Linked DNA regions of Homo sapiens. The protein of the gene in region 1 binds, or shares a complex with, the protein of each later gene. Each region holds a gene or a part of one and is shown on either strand. Other genes may lie near its edges.

Region 1 (7,333 bases):
CACTGTACTCCAGCCCGGGCGACAGGGTGAGACTCCGTCTCAAAAAAAAAAAAAAAAAAAAAATTTATTGGTTTTTAAACCCTAATTCAACTACTTTTTTTTGCAAGGAATTCAAATGTTTTGAAAACAGCATGCCAAACATATCACATTGGCAGACTTGTTGCCAGTTAGCAACCTTGGTTTTGGTGAATTAATTTATGTCTAAATTAACTTATATTTCTACTTAGTCTCTGTCAAGACTAAGTAACTTTTCAAAGGAAGCATACCAATATACTTACCTCCAAACAACAAGAATGTGTTTCTTGAAGGAAGAGATTTGACAGATAAATGGAATGCTAGCCAATCTAAAATTGTTTTGTTATTTTTGTAACTTATTGTCAGTCTTCAGCTGATTACCAATGTGGTATCAAAAAGCCTTTCAAGACAAATGTTTGAACCATTAGTGTCGAATTATATTGCAGATTTTTTGGAATCTTCCTTTAATCTCATTTATTTCTGGTATACAACACAGATTCATCAATATTGCAATATAGAAAATACAAGAAGAAAAACATGCAACCATTTTATATTAATCACCTCATTCTGATTTGGAAAACTACTCAAGAGTAAGCTGCATGTTGCATGCAGGCACAACTAAATATTCTATTTACTTGTAGGTTCTACTGCAGTACTGCAAACTATAAACATTTTCATAAAAGTCACCCACAGTACTAAGCACTGTTGTAATTTCTTTTCATTATTCTTCACTTCCATAGAATAACTATGATATAATCTGAATTGGCTACGCAATAGAAACACTAGTCAGTTTCTCATCATGCTCCACAACATCAAAAATGTTTTAGTAATAGCAGATCTGCAAGTATACAAAATAAAAAGTAAACAAGAAAGTCTATCAGCCCTTTGCTGAAGGTTAACACATATAAAAGTAGTTAAAACATATTACATTATCATAACTCAAAACTTAACAGTGATAACTCCAAATGAACATGAAATCAAGCAAATACCAACAAGTTTATTTATTGTTGTTGAATTATGAGCTGGGTGGCTTTATTCAGAAACACAAATTTCAAAGTAAGATTTCTGTTTTACCCAGTGCCAATTTTAAGCAAACAAGGAAAAGTAAACACATCAAAGGACAGTGATATGTGATTACTTCGAATACATCTTAATTAAAATGCATCATCTTGTCTTTGAAGTTTTCAAATATTCTTCGAACTGTTTTCAACTCAGATGCTAGGGTGATAATCACATTGCAGTAACCAGTGAATGAACAAAATAACAAACTTCCCAATTAACTTTTAGGGAGTAAATAATGTTTATCAAATGCATATAATTGGCATGGGCACAAGAGGCATAACGTAAGAGACTATGGACGATAAATTCATATACGAGCAGCTGAAGAACAAGTTTTTTTCTACAGTGTCACTATGTAAAGTACCCATAAACCTATTTTAAATGTATATATCATTATTGTTTTGCAAAATTTCTAATGAGCTGCAAACAACCCACGTGCATATGAAAATCTTCATAATTATCTTTTTGAATGCAAAGACGTCTAGCTTACCTTTTAGAATTCGATGCTATATCACATAAAACTAAACTGCTCTCTTTGAGCATTTCCCAAAATTCCAGCAAAGAACTGGGGATTCTTTCTATAATTACAAATCTTATAGAAATTACACATCTTATAGTATCCTAATCTGCTGAGTTGACCAAAGAAATACATTATTATCATTATAACACAAGTTAAAAAACAAAACAGGTTACTGCTGTTCGTATAAGACTTGTTTCTCTTTGGAAACACAAGGACAATAAAATGAAATCTCAATGAAAGATGCAGAAAAAATGAAAAATGACTGCAGGAGTCCAAGAATCCCAGGATGGGCTTGACTGGTGGTGAGTTTATACTTTGGAAGTCCTACCTAATAATTTTAAAGATCTATTCAAAATTATAATCCAAATGCTTATCATTTGGAAGATAAGTGCACATTTAATAAAGGAACACTGTAACTTGCAAAACTTTCCTAAACCACATCTTTTAAGGCAGTAAAAACTTGATACAGATGTTTTTGATTCGAGATAAGGAAATAAATTTCCTTTCCCTATTAGACAAGTAACTGTTCTTTCCCAAACTCCAGGAACCACAATATTCTTGGACTCCAGCTCCCAACACTGGTTACACATACAACCCGCAGTATCTACCTGCACTTGCCAGACTGTTACCAAAATTGAACGGAGTCGCCGAGGTAGTAGAAACACCGAAATTCCCAATATTAAAGTTCACTGCAGGATTAGCAGTTAATCCGAAACCCCCAAAATTAAACCCACTGGCGGTGGAGTTGGCAGTCTCAAGCCCACCAAATCCTGATAGGCGTGTAGGCAAAGAAACAAAATTTTAAAAAGGGGGAGAGGGAAAAAGAAAAGAAAGCAAGATAAGGATTAGAAGAATCAGCAGGAGGTTTCACAGAAGTGAACAAACCTGGTTTTGCTCCAAACAGTTTAAGAAAGCAGAGTGGGGGTGGGGTGGGGCAGATGGAAGAAGCATGACGGATAAACCCCACAGCGAGGACCACAGGGGGCCGGGGGTGGAACTAAGGGAGTCAATGGGCAGTGCCGGTGGATCCCCAGCCCTATCCTCGCCGAGTCCGGCAGCGGGAACCACGCAAGCGTTCCCGCCCATCCAGGAGGCTGAGGTGCAGAGGGGAGGGAGGTTCTCGGGCAAGGGGAGAGGGAAGCAACCTCCAATTTCTCTGAGTAGGACTCCCCGGCAGCGGGAAGCGAACCGCTCAAGCCAGGGCCCTGTGGAAACTCACGCGCGGCAAGCGAGCTTCTAGTGGGACCCCGAGTACCCCCGTGGCCTCCTCGGGTGCCGCCTCGGCCCACTCTGCCGCCGCCCGCCCTTTTCCAATGCCTCTAAAGTCTCCGCGTCGGCGGGAGATTCCAGGATCCCCAGGTCGGAGAGTCTCGGACAGAGGGGGCGGACCAGACCCTTCCCCTTCTTCCCGGGTGAAGGTCTAGGGGGATCACTCACCCGCGGGGGCCGCGGTGGCTGCAGCGGTACCGGAGGTGCCCGAGGGAGCCCCAAAATTGAAGGCCATGTCGCGAAAGCAGGAGACCAAGTAGGTTACTCCTGCGACGCGCAGCGCGCTCCCCTTCTCAGTCCGGCCGGGAAACCGCCAGTCAGATCACCGAGTTCCGCCTCCTTTCTGACCTAGCCTAAGAGGCCGGAAGGCGCCAAGGGCGTAGGAGGTGGGTGGTTGTGAGGGAACGCCCCCAGCCAGCTCACTTCCGGTGGGCTTCACATGCTGTGGGGTGTCACTGTTAAGGTAAAATGCTGGGACGCTCGCGAGGGTGTGCCGCCTGAGAGTCCTTTAAAAACTGCCGTAGGGAGGTTCTTTGGGAAAGGTGTGCAGAGGCTGAAGTTGTTACTGTAGGGATACGCGGTAGACAGCTAGAATTTGTATGTGGTAGGGTTGAAGTTGCTGCCTCATCAACTAGCGGGCCTGGGAGGTCGGGCAGCAGGGCTGGGGTTGAGAACCCCCCCAACACCCACGAGGAGGTGGTATTTGAACCCAGTGCTGAAGGATGAGTAGACGGAGCAGAAGCAGTAAAGAGGATGCACGTTGGAAGAAATGAAAGCGAATGGAATTGTAGCAAACACGTTGCGTTTACTATGTGCCAGGCACTCTTCTAGACATTTTACATAATTTAATCAGCTATCTTATGAGGTGGGTTGCTGCTATCTCCAATTTATAAAAGAGGAAACAGGTACCAAAGGGTCAGGCTGTTTACAGAGTAAATACTCCTAACCACAGCTCTAAGGGGAGCACTGAAAAAGAGGGGAAGAGTGGGCCCCCTCTGTTGTACTTGTAATATAATTTAATCCTCAGAATAAATAAATAGAGAAGATTCTGTAACTGTATTTTGCAGGTGAGATGAGAGAATTGAGGTTTGGAGTTGTTAAGCAGCTTGCCCAAAGTCACCTTGCAGGTAGGTTCTGGAGTCTGGTTTTGGACTCATGTTTCTCCACTCCAGAGTCCCAATTTGTAAAAATTACCATTATATTATATTGCCTTGTAAATTATGGTAAGGATTTCAGACTATTTCTTGAGGGTAATGGGAAACCTTTAAGGGGTTTTAGGCAGAGGACTAGTATGACTAGAATTTTGTTTTTAGAAGATCCCTCTGGCTGCCATAAGGAGAATGGATTGGAAGGAGCCAGAATGCCTGAGGAAGATAGAGCTTTTAGGAGTCTGTTGTAGTTGCACAGGTAGGAGATGATAATGACTTGGATTACATCTGGCAGTGGAATTAGGAGAATAAATTTGAGAGATACTTAAGAAATAGCATATATGAGACTCGTAGTATTTGGACGTGGGAAGTAAGGATTCAAGGACAACCTCCTGCTTTCTGGCTTGGGCAAGTTGGTGAATGGTGGACCCGTGTCTGACTCCTACAAACTGAGTATGCTCTCATACCCACTGCCCTGCCTTCTTTCACTGTTTGTCACAGATAATTTATCAATCTAATTTTTCCTTACAATAGTATATATTCCATAAGTGCAAGAACCATGTCCCTCTTGTTCCATGCCCATCACAAGTGCCTGGCATATAACAGGGGGAAATAAATAATGAATGAATGACAGATAGGTGGAAACCAGATCTTGAAAGACCTTCCTTAGCATGTTAAGGAGCTTTGATTTACCAGCAGTTTGTCCAGCTGCGGCCCACAGGCCACATGTGGCTCATGGCTTAGGATGGCTTTGAATGCAGCCCAACACAAATTCGTAAACTTTATTGAAACATTGTGAGGTTTTTTGCGATTTTTTTTAAAGCTCATCAGCTATTGTTAGTGTATTTTATGTGTGGCCCAAGACAATTCTTCTTCTTCCAGTGTGGCCCAAGGAAGCCAAAAGATTGGACACCCCTGATTTAGCACATAGCCTAACGCTTAAGTACTTAGCTTACCTTAAAAAAACAAACAACCATTCTTCTTCTTCCAGCGTGGCCCAGGGAAGCCAAAAGATTGGACACCCCTGATTTAGCACATTGTCTAATGGCTAAGTACTCAGCTTACCTTAAAAAAACAAACAGCCCTCCCAGTCTAGCAGAAAGGAAAACCAATGATTAATTTATGGAATCTGCCAGAAGCTCAGGAATTGGAGATATCACGTATCTTCATAAGTTGGGGTAAAGGGAAGTTAAAATGAGAGGAACTGGTTGAAAGTCTATTTAAGAAGCAGTTAGAGCTCCCCAAATCCTCTTCTGACCTCGTGCAGCCAAGTGAATGCTTCTTCCCCACTCTAGAAAAATAATGGAGGATTCTTCTCTACAGTGATTAAAATAGTATTTGCCAGGCACAGTGGCACCAGCCTATAGTCCCATCTACTCGGAAAGCTGATGTGGGAGGATTGCTTGAGCCTAGGAGTTCAGCCAGCCTGGGCAACACAGTGGGGACTCCCCCCCACCCCCCGTCAGTGTAAAAAAAAAAAAAATAGTAGTGTCTCTGGACTTGGGGGCACCAGACATTATTGAGAGTGGGTAGTGCCCTACTGAATGGTGGAAGACTGAGTGGAAATGCATGCCTATACACACCTTCCCCTACTGCTCCCAGAACATTGGCAGCCAGGCCTTCGCCCTCCAGGAAGATATAGGAGAATTTTTTATGGGTGAAATGACCAGTATCAAAGAAAAGACAATCATCTGACATCAGAAATCTCTAAATAAATGATTTAGCCACATGACATTATAGCAGTGGTTCTCAACTGGTGCCAATTTTCTACTTCTCCCATCCCCTGGCACATCTGGCAGTGTCTACAGACAGTTTTGGTGGTTGCAATTGGGAAGATCTTACAGGCATCTATTGAGTAGAAGTTGAAGATGCTGCAAAATACTCTAGGACAGACTCCCTTCCTACCCAAACAAAAAATTACCTGGCCCCAAATACCACTATTACAGAGTTTGAGAAATCCTGCTTTATAATAAAGCTCACACTTTGCAAGCCTCACTAAGGCACTCAGAACTTCCATTCAGCTTTTAAGTCCCACTCTTATATATGAGTAGACCAGCAAGGATTACCAAGCTGAGGAGAGCCTTTAACACAATGTATAGAGGTCAAAACAAATAGAGCAGCAAAAGCAGCTTGGAGGAAACTAACTGCAAGGAGAATAAAACTTTTAAAAAGTGAACATATCCGCAGAGAGATAGGAAGAGATATTGTAACCATGAAATAATATCAGGATGTTATTATTTTCAAAGAAAGGTATTCTTAGCAGAACAAAAGAGAGCTATTGGAATTTTAAAGCTATTACCAGAAATGAAAAACCCAGTAGAAGTGTCGGAAGATAAAGGTGAAGAAATCTCTCAGAAAGAAAAACAAAAAGACCAAGGATGGAAAATTGAGGAGAAACTAAAACTAGAGGACTAGTTCAAAAAGCCCTCTATCACACACACTGTTATATCATGCACACTAATACAATAATTTCAGAAAGAGTATAGAGAAAAATCTGTCCTTTAAAGTCCTTCAAGATTTGGTCTCTTCCTATTATTCGTTCATTCAGAGTTTATTGAGTCCTACTATGTACTTGGTACTATTCTGAGTGCTAAACAAAAAAGGTATGGTTTGTGCCTTTGAGAACTTACAGTTGAGTGAGGGAAAACCAGATATTGAGTTAATAGTACACTTGTGGGCCAAGTGCAGTGGCTCATACTTGTAATCCCAGCACTTTGGGGGACCAAGGCGGCAGAGTCACTGAGCTGGGGAGATTGAGACCAGCCTGGGTAATATAGGGAGACCCCATCTCTACAAAAAAAAAAAAAAATAGACCAAATTAGCCAGGTGTGGCACACGCCAATAGCCCCAGAGGTTGACGCTGCAGTGAGCAGCCATCATGCCACTGCACTCCAGCCTGGGTGACGGAGTGAAACATTGTCTCAAAAATAAAGAAAAAAAAAATAGTATACTTGTGACTGTTCAAGAAGGCAGCACAGCTGAGGAAATTATTAAATAATTCAAGAAAATTTATCATAATTGAAAGACACTGCTGGGTTGAAAATGGTTCACCAAATGCTCATTACAATTAATCAAAATAGACTCACACTAAGGCACATTCCAAAATAACAGAACCATGATGGCAAAGAAGTTTCCAGAGAGTAAAAGAGGTCACACACACAAAAACAAGAATCAAAATGGCATCAGACTTCTCAATGGTAACACTAGCTAGAAGGCAGTTGAGAAATGCCTTTGAATTTCTGAATACAAATTATTTCCAGCTACAATTCTATTCCCAGCCAACTTATAGATCAACTATGAAGGGAGAATAATAGCATTTTTA
Region 2 (7,000 bases), on another chromosome or scaffold:
TCTGGACTTAAGTCACACTCTCTAGAGGAGGACATGGAGTGCTTGATATTTCACACACAAATCTTACATCTTCTAAGGCTGAGGTTGACTTTCACATTCAAATAAAAATGTGAAAATGAATCGTGACTCTGCTATATGGAATATTATATCTAAATAAAAGTAACTCCCAAAGGCTTTGTTTCCTGGCTCATTTTGGGTAGATTTTTAATTAATTAAGGTCAATTTAACCAAATAATGAATATCTACATAGCCTCTCATTCCCTGGCCCAAGAGCTAGTGACGGTATTTCCCATTACACAAATAAAAATGTAAACAAAATTTCAAAGAAAAAAAAAAAGAAAATAAAAGAATGTTGAAAAGAAATACAAATCAAAGAAATTTATTGGCGTTGACAAAAATACATAATACAGAAACCAAAACAAAACACAACAGAAACAAAACCAGAAACCCCAGCCTAGTGGGCCCATGTGCCTGATGTACTGACAGTGTGCCGACCCAGACTCCCACAAAGCATGGCACTTAATTCATGAGGACCTCCATCTGCACCAGCCTCGCATTGGTGTCCCCAGACGTTCGGTATGGTATCATTCCAGCAAAGGTAATCAGAGTGCGGGCTTGACTTCGGAGTTGCTGAGAGAGAAGGGAAGGAAGGGAAGGAAATCGGTTAACTTTCGAGTCAGGGCACTATTCCATATTCTTCCATCCTCTATTCCATGTTCTTCCATCCTCTACCCCAGCGTGTCAGGGACAGATCCCTGATGGGTGGATGACAGTCATACCCTCCTCTGTCACATTCCTTCAACATAACACAAAGTTAACAAAGCTCGTCCCCCGAGGCCTCTGTTCCACAGGCATCCAAACCCATCTATTAAGCAAAAAGCAGATGGGTTTGCCAGGCAAGCCGCCTCGCCCCAACACATTTGGCTAGCTTTTGACACAGCCCTGAGCTTCAGAACTGCCTGCTCCAATCTTCTGAGCCTCTCTCTCTGGCTGGTTTCTGTCCATCTGCTTTCACAGGGATCTGACTCTCCAGAGCCCCATGAAGCCCTTGTGACACCGGAGGCAAGGGCTGTGACTGTGCAGTCCCAATCCAGCTCTCTTCCTCCCATGCATCTTTCCTCTTCCTTCCTTTCATTCCTCCTGTTTCTCCCTTCCCGACATACATGCTTAGCCCTTCTTTCCCCAGGCAACAGTATTTATGGAATTCCTGGATTGTTCAGGATGGAAAAAGGTGGCCCTACAAATTTAAACCAAATCTGGACTAGAAAGGGAGAAATCTACCACCAACACCTTTCTGGACTAGTAACAAGAATTTAAAGAAACACTGAGGAGTCATCTACTAGGCTTACTTAAGGACCATTCCAGAAGAAAACGGAAAAGCAAATGCTTTTTACCTGATGTGTAAAACAAACTAGCGAGTGTATGTCCTTATTGATGTCCAAACAAAAAGAAATCTGACTTTGTGATGTGAATATCCACTGTATTTTCTTTAGAAGTGAATAAAAGGGCTCTCGTTAAATGAGCTCTAGGGATGTTCAAGTAAAAGGATTCACCCCTTTACTAGGCAGCATCTCACTTTAAACCATGAAACCAAGGACGTCAGTGGGCTTGCAGACTTCTTGGGCACGCAGCTTTTATAGATAACCTTTTACTTAATCCTATCCCTCCCTACCTTTCAGAAAAAGAAAGAAAAAGGAGAGTGGTGGGCAAAAGGAAGGCAGGAGAATGATCTTCAGACATGAGACATGGCCTGCCAGGGGACCAGCTCTTCTCAGTGGGCAAGCCCCACTGAACTGTAAGCAGCACACAGAGCACCAAGAAGTATCCACCATCTCAATACTCACATTCACAAACATCACTGCCCTGGGTTTCTATCATCAAAAAAGATTCCTGCCAAATGGTGGGCACCATGAACCCACCGCTGGCACATCTGACATTTAGACTCCTATCTGTCCGGGGTAGGCAGAAGACCAGCAAATGCTCTGGTGCACACCTGGATGGGCTGACCGCTTCAGTGGACCACTCTTGAGCACTGTTACCCACATTCCTAAAGGTGGAAATTTCCGCCATCTTTCACTAAGCACAAGTTTTGTCAACAACCATGCCTGTGGGGTCACAGTGGAAAGAGCTCACAGACATCTTGGAGGCAGAAGACAGATCAAGGCTTCTTGGCTGCCAAAACCAGGTCTGATGTTAGACACTGAGATGCTGAGAGTCTCATCAAAAATTAAGTGGAAAGGTTAAAGGAAAGGTAATTTTAAAAAACACTATTGTGGGGCCGGGAACGGTGGCTCACATCTGTAATCCTAGCACTTTGGGAGGCCGAGGTTGGGGGATCTCTTGAGCTCAGGAGTTCGAGACCAGTCTGGGCAACATGGTAAAATTCCATCTCTATATAAAGTACAAAACTCCGCTGGGTGTGGTGGTGCGTACCTGTAGTCCCAGCTACTTGGGAGGGTGAGGTGGGAGGGTGGCTTGAGCCCAAGAGGTAGAGGTTGCAGTGAGCTGAGATCGTGTCATTGCATTCCAGCCTGGGCAACAGAGCCAGGCCCTGCCTCAAAAAAAAAAAAAAAGCAAACACCATTGGACTGTCCCCTTATGGTTTAACTGGGTCAAAAAATACCTTTGCTCTTTTTTTTTGTAATCAGACAACATATGCTGTGAGCCCCAGGGTTCTAGCTACCTGGACTCCACTTGACCCATGCACTGCTGGAGGTCCCACAGGCAGCAGAAAGGGCACAGGTGTCAGAGAGACCCAGCCTCCAGACATGGCCCCTTCACCTACCTGCCACCTGAGGGCAGTTGCTTCCCAACTCCACAGCTCAGTTTCCTCAGCTGTGAGAGGGGATAAGATGCTGTCCTAGTTACCTCTCTAGGGTCACTGTGAACACAGGTGACAGGAGAAACAAGGGTTCACATTAATGTGTTGATCAAAAATAAAGTATGGTTTTAATAAAAGTGTTCACTAATGAGCTAGGACTAACAAAATAAACTTATCTTTTAAAATGTGCAGGAAGTTCTTATGGAGTCAACTAGAAATTAGCATTCTGTTTGATTTGTTAAAAGGTAAGATTTGCAGACCTAGTACATCTTTTTATTTTTTTAAGCTTGAGAAGAGCAGCAATCCCTTTAATATTTGATTTCCTCTGGGAGCCTCCTAACACGAGATTTATCCAGCTGCCAGGTACTGAGGAGAAAGAGCAGTTTTGGGTCATGTGGTCTCATAAGAGCGCAACGGATTCCAAACCAGAAAGGTGGTGCTTAGCAATGTTTCTCGCGAATGCTGGGATCTTACAGAGTCGCGGTCCTCGATGACTCGCTGGGGCCTGGATGACGAGGATGGACTTGTCCCCTTGAGCCTCTTAAACTGTGTGAACAAGATGTTCATGGTGGCAAGAAGCACTTCTGAGAGGTTGTGCCTGATCTACATAGAGAGAAAAACAGAGTAAAGAAAAAGAACCAAGCCTTTGGGGCCAACCACAGATGGAGGGAGGGTGGGCTGCTCCAGGCAGGCCTGGTTGCACCACTCCTCACCATTGCCAGGTGGAGAGCCACACAGTCACCCAAAAGGAGCTGATGGCACTGAAACATCAAGTGTGAGAAAAAAACCCAAGCAATGCTGCTCAGGTCAGGTGGTTACTGTTCCTGCTCCTTTATGCTGTTTTTCCCTTAGTCAGGGGCAGTGAGCCAAAAGCATGCTGACATCTGGTTAGCATTAGGCTTAGACTGGCCAGCAGAGTGGCTGCCATTAAATAATTTGAACTTGAATGTCAGGAGGTACAGGTGCACACGCTACTTCTCCACAGTCCCTACCACTCCTCACTCTCTCAAACTCACCGGGCTGTTTCCACTAGATCTGCATGACCCTACCAGAGTCCTTGGGAGTGTCTATAAGGCCAGGCCCTCGTGTACCACTTTAATCCCTGATGCAATGAAGGATGCATTCAAGGAAAGGCCAGAAATAACAAAGGAGCAAGTGGCTAAGGGTAGAAGCCACAGCAGGTATAAAGGGAAGGTCAGCAAGGGGCAAGACCTTCTGAACTGTGTGTACCACAGCAGTCAACATCCCTCTTCATGTGCAGAACTGGCCTTACTTCTTTCTCTAAAATAGAAACTTTTTTTTTTTTTTTTTGAGACAAAGTCTCCCTCTATCGCCCAGGCTGGAGTGAAGTGGCGCAATCTCGGCTCACTGCAACCTTTGCTTCCCGGGTTCAAGCGATTCTCGTGCCTCAGCCTCTGGAATAGCTGGGACTACAGGTATGCGTCACCACGCCCGGCTAATTTTTGTATTTTTTAGTAGAGATGGGATTTTACCATGTTGGCCAGGCTGGTCTCGAACTCCTGACCTCAGGTGATCAGTCCGCCTCAGCCTCCCAAAATGTTGGGATTATAGGTGTGAGCCACCGCACCTGGCTGGAGACATTTTATAAAAGGCATCTGCTCAATGAGGAAGAATTGTAAACTGAAAGACCACTAGTGACATCCCAGAGCCAGGCAGCTGGTTCTAGAGTCTATAGTGTCGACAGCTGAGTTGAGTGTTTATAGTTCTAGAGAAGAATTTACCTGGGCCACACACTGGAATGACTGGGGGAGGTCTGGGCTGCAGCAATCAGGGAAAACAGAATCTCTGGGGTGTAGGCATGAGGGTTTTTAGAAACTTTTCTAGAGATGCCAGTATGCAGCCCAGCTGAGCACCCTAGGCTAGATGCTGGCAATATGCTAGAAACCCAACAGACAGTGGCTCTGGGGCTTATGGGGTGATAGCTTACTCCGCGGTCACTGCACTTGCGTCTTTAGACAAAATGGATTGGCTGGGCACGGTGGCTCACGCCTGTAATCCCAGCATTTTGGGAGGCCGAGGCGGGCAGATCACGAGGTCAGAAGATCGAGACCATCCTGGCTAACACGGTGAAACCCCATCTCTACTAAATATACAAAAAATTAGCTGGGCGTGTTGGCGGGCACCTGTAGTCCCAGCTACTCGTGAGGCTGAGGCAGGAGAATGGTGTGAACCCGGGAGGTAGAGCTTGCAGTGAGCCAAGATCACACCACTGCACTCCAGCCTGGGTGACAGAGTGAGACTCCTCCGTTTCAAAAACAAAAAAATCCCAAAACAGATAAGGGAGGGCAAAGGTGGCAGTGAATCATGATGTGTTTCACGTACCCAATGGAACTACTTAAAGATGATCAGAGTTAAGCACTAAAATACCCTCTAGCACAAGCGGATAATAGAAGAATTAAACCAGACTTCACAGATCAACCAGAAACCTGTTTCTCCCAAGAACATGTCAATCACTGAAGTGACTGTATTTTCTCAATTAGGAATTCAGACAATAATCTGATGGGGATGTATGCACTCACAGAAAAGCCAGGCCAAGGTATCTGAAAGGGAACCACTCTGGAAAACTCAGTCTGGATAGTTACTGTAACTAGAATTCTTAAAGCTGTTAGGTACAGGAAAAGAAAAAGCTTTTGGTGGAAGTGGGGAAAAAGGAATTCCACAACTCAGGAAGAAGGAACTTACTTCATCACTGAAATTTCTGAAGGCAGCCACTCTCTCTTCCACACTTTCCTGATTCAGGGGCACCAGCTTCAAGCGCTCAATGATCTGTTTAAAACAACCACCGGCCCCATGTAACACAACCATCACAGTCATTTCATCTCTCTACATGTAAAGTCAGCACCTCACATACTCCAAAGGGCTTCTTCATAGAAAACGCCATTCCTCCTTGTACACACAAAGGCTTTGATTCTAACTAGCTAACTTAATTCTTATCATCATTTCCTGACACAATTTTTAAAATTCTGAGATTGCAAATTACTTTGAGAAACTTCTCTGTTTTCAGATTAAAGGGGAAAGGAATAGGCAAAAAAAAAAAAAAAAAAAAAAAAAAAGCCACACAGGAAACTCCTTTTAAGTCCCAGGATTGTACTTGTCTTTCTTTATACAACAAACATACTGGCAACAGCTCCTTTGTTTTAAGTAAATTCCATGAAGTGTTTTGAATTTTCGAGGGTGTACATTAACCTGCACTTCAAACACCTTTCCTGAAACTTACATCAAAAGCTCTATCAATATGACCACTATGATACTCGTCAAAAAAGGTGATCAAGTCCAAAAGAAGATAGAACGTGGAGTCCACAAATTTATTTGCGCTTATTCCTTGAGCCCTATACCTGAAAGACAAAAACGGGGTGGGGGTAGTAAGAGTGTATCAGGAATTTCTGTGTAATCCGTAACAGTGGAATAGCATTTAAAAAAACAGTGGGGTGTGGTCGCTCATGCCTGTAATCTCAGCTACATGGGAGGCTGGGGCGGAAGGATTGCTTGAGGCCAGGAGTCAGTGACCAGCCTGGACACACAGCGAGACCCCATCTCCACAAAATATTAAAATATTAACTGAGTGTGGTGGTACATGCCTGTAGTCCTAGTTACTCAGGAGGCTGAGGTGGGAGGATTGCTTGAGCCCAGGAGTTCAAGGTTACAGTGAGCTATGACTGCACTACTGCACTCCACTCCAGCCTGGGTGATACAGGGAGACCCTGTCTTAACATACAAAAAAAATGTATAAAAAGCATCAAAACCTTCTGAGCTCTCTGGGTGAAGTTAATTAAAGAGTGTAAAATGGTGTTTATTTTGAAACAGCCAAGCACTGATAGTGGATTTGGTATGAATCCACCTACAGGTACTCCACCACATGAAGCATGGTTCTCCAGCCTTGATCATCATCTCAGCATCCAATCTTCATGAAAGGTGGGAGGTCGTGATGGGCAAAAAGCCGAGCAGCCCTCACTGGGGATTGTTTGCTAGGTGGAGATATCTCATTTACCAAAGAATGTTCTTTTTTGTTACCCCGGGAAGGCACCCCAAACCCAGTTTTCTCTGGGTCATTTTACTAGGAATATCTACAGAGAGCGCAAAAAGTAATGTTGTTAGCTTCAGCCTGGGACTTAAACTAGTTAGAAGTCTGATAATTCAGTTAACTCACTGGGGATCCAG

The links.
Region 2: NUP54 (region 1) and NUP93 share a complex: the UniProt entries of both Homo sapiens proteins name them as parts of the p62 complex.

Annotation. Positions count from the first base shown.
Region 1 is NC_000004.12:76,145,277-76,152,609, forward strand, and holds the start of NUP54 (nucleoporin p54), read right to left. Parts: upstream 3,122-7,333; 5' UTR 3,099-3,121; coding exon 3,032-3,098; exon of another isoform or gene 279-3,031; intron 1-278. UniProt on the Homo sapiens protein: Component of the nuclear pore complex, a complex required for the trafficking across the nuclear membrane.
Region 2 is NC_000016.10:56,838,129-56,845,128, reverse strand, and holds part of NUP93 (nuclear pore complex protein Nup93), read right to left. Parts: intron 6,178-7,000; coding exon 6,060-6,177; intron 5,609-6,059; coding exon 5,525-5,608; intron 3,425-5,524; coding exon 3,296-3,424; intron 631-3,295; coding exon 520-630; 3' UTR 1-519. UniProt on the Homo sapiens protein: Plays a role in the nuclear pore complex (NPC) assembly and/or maintenance. May anchor nucleoporins, but not NUP153 and TPR, to the NPC. During renal development, regulates podocyte migration and proliferation through SMAD4 signaling.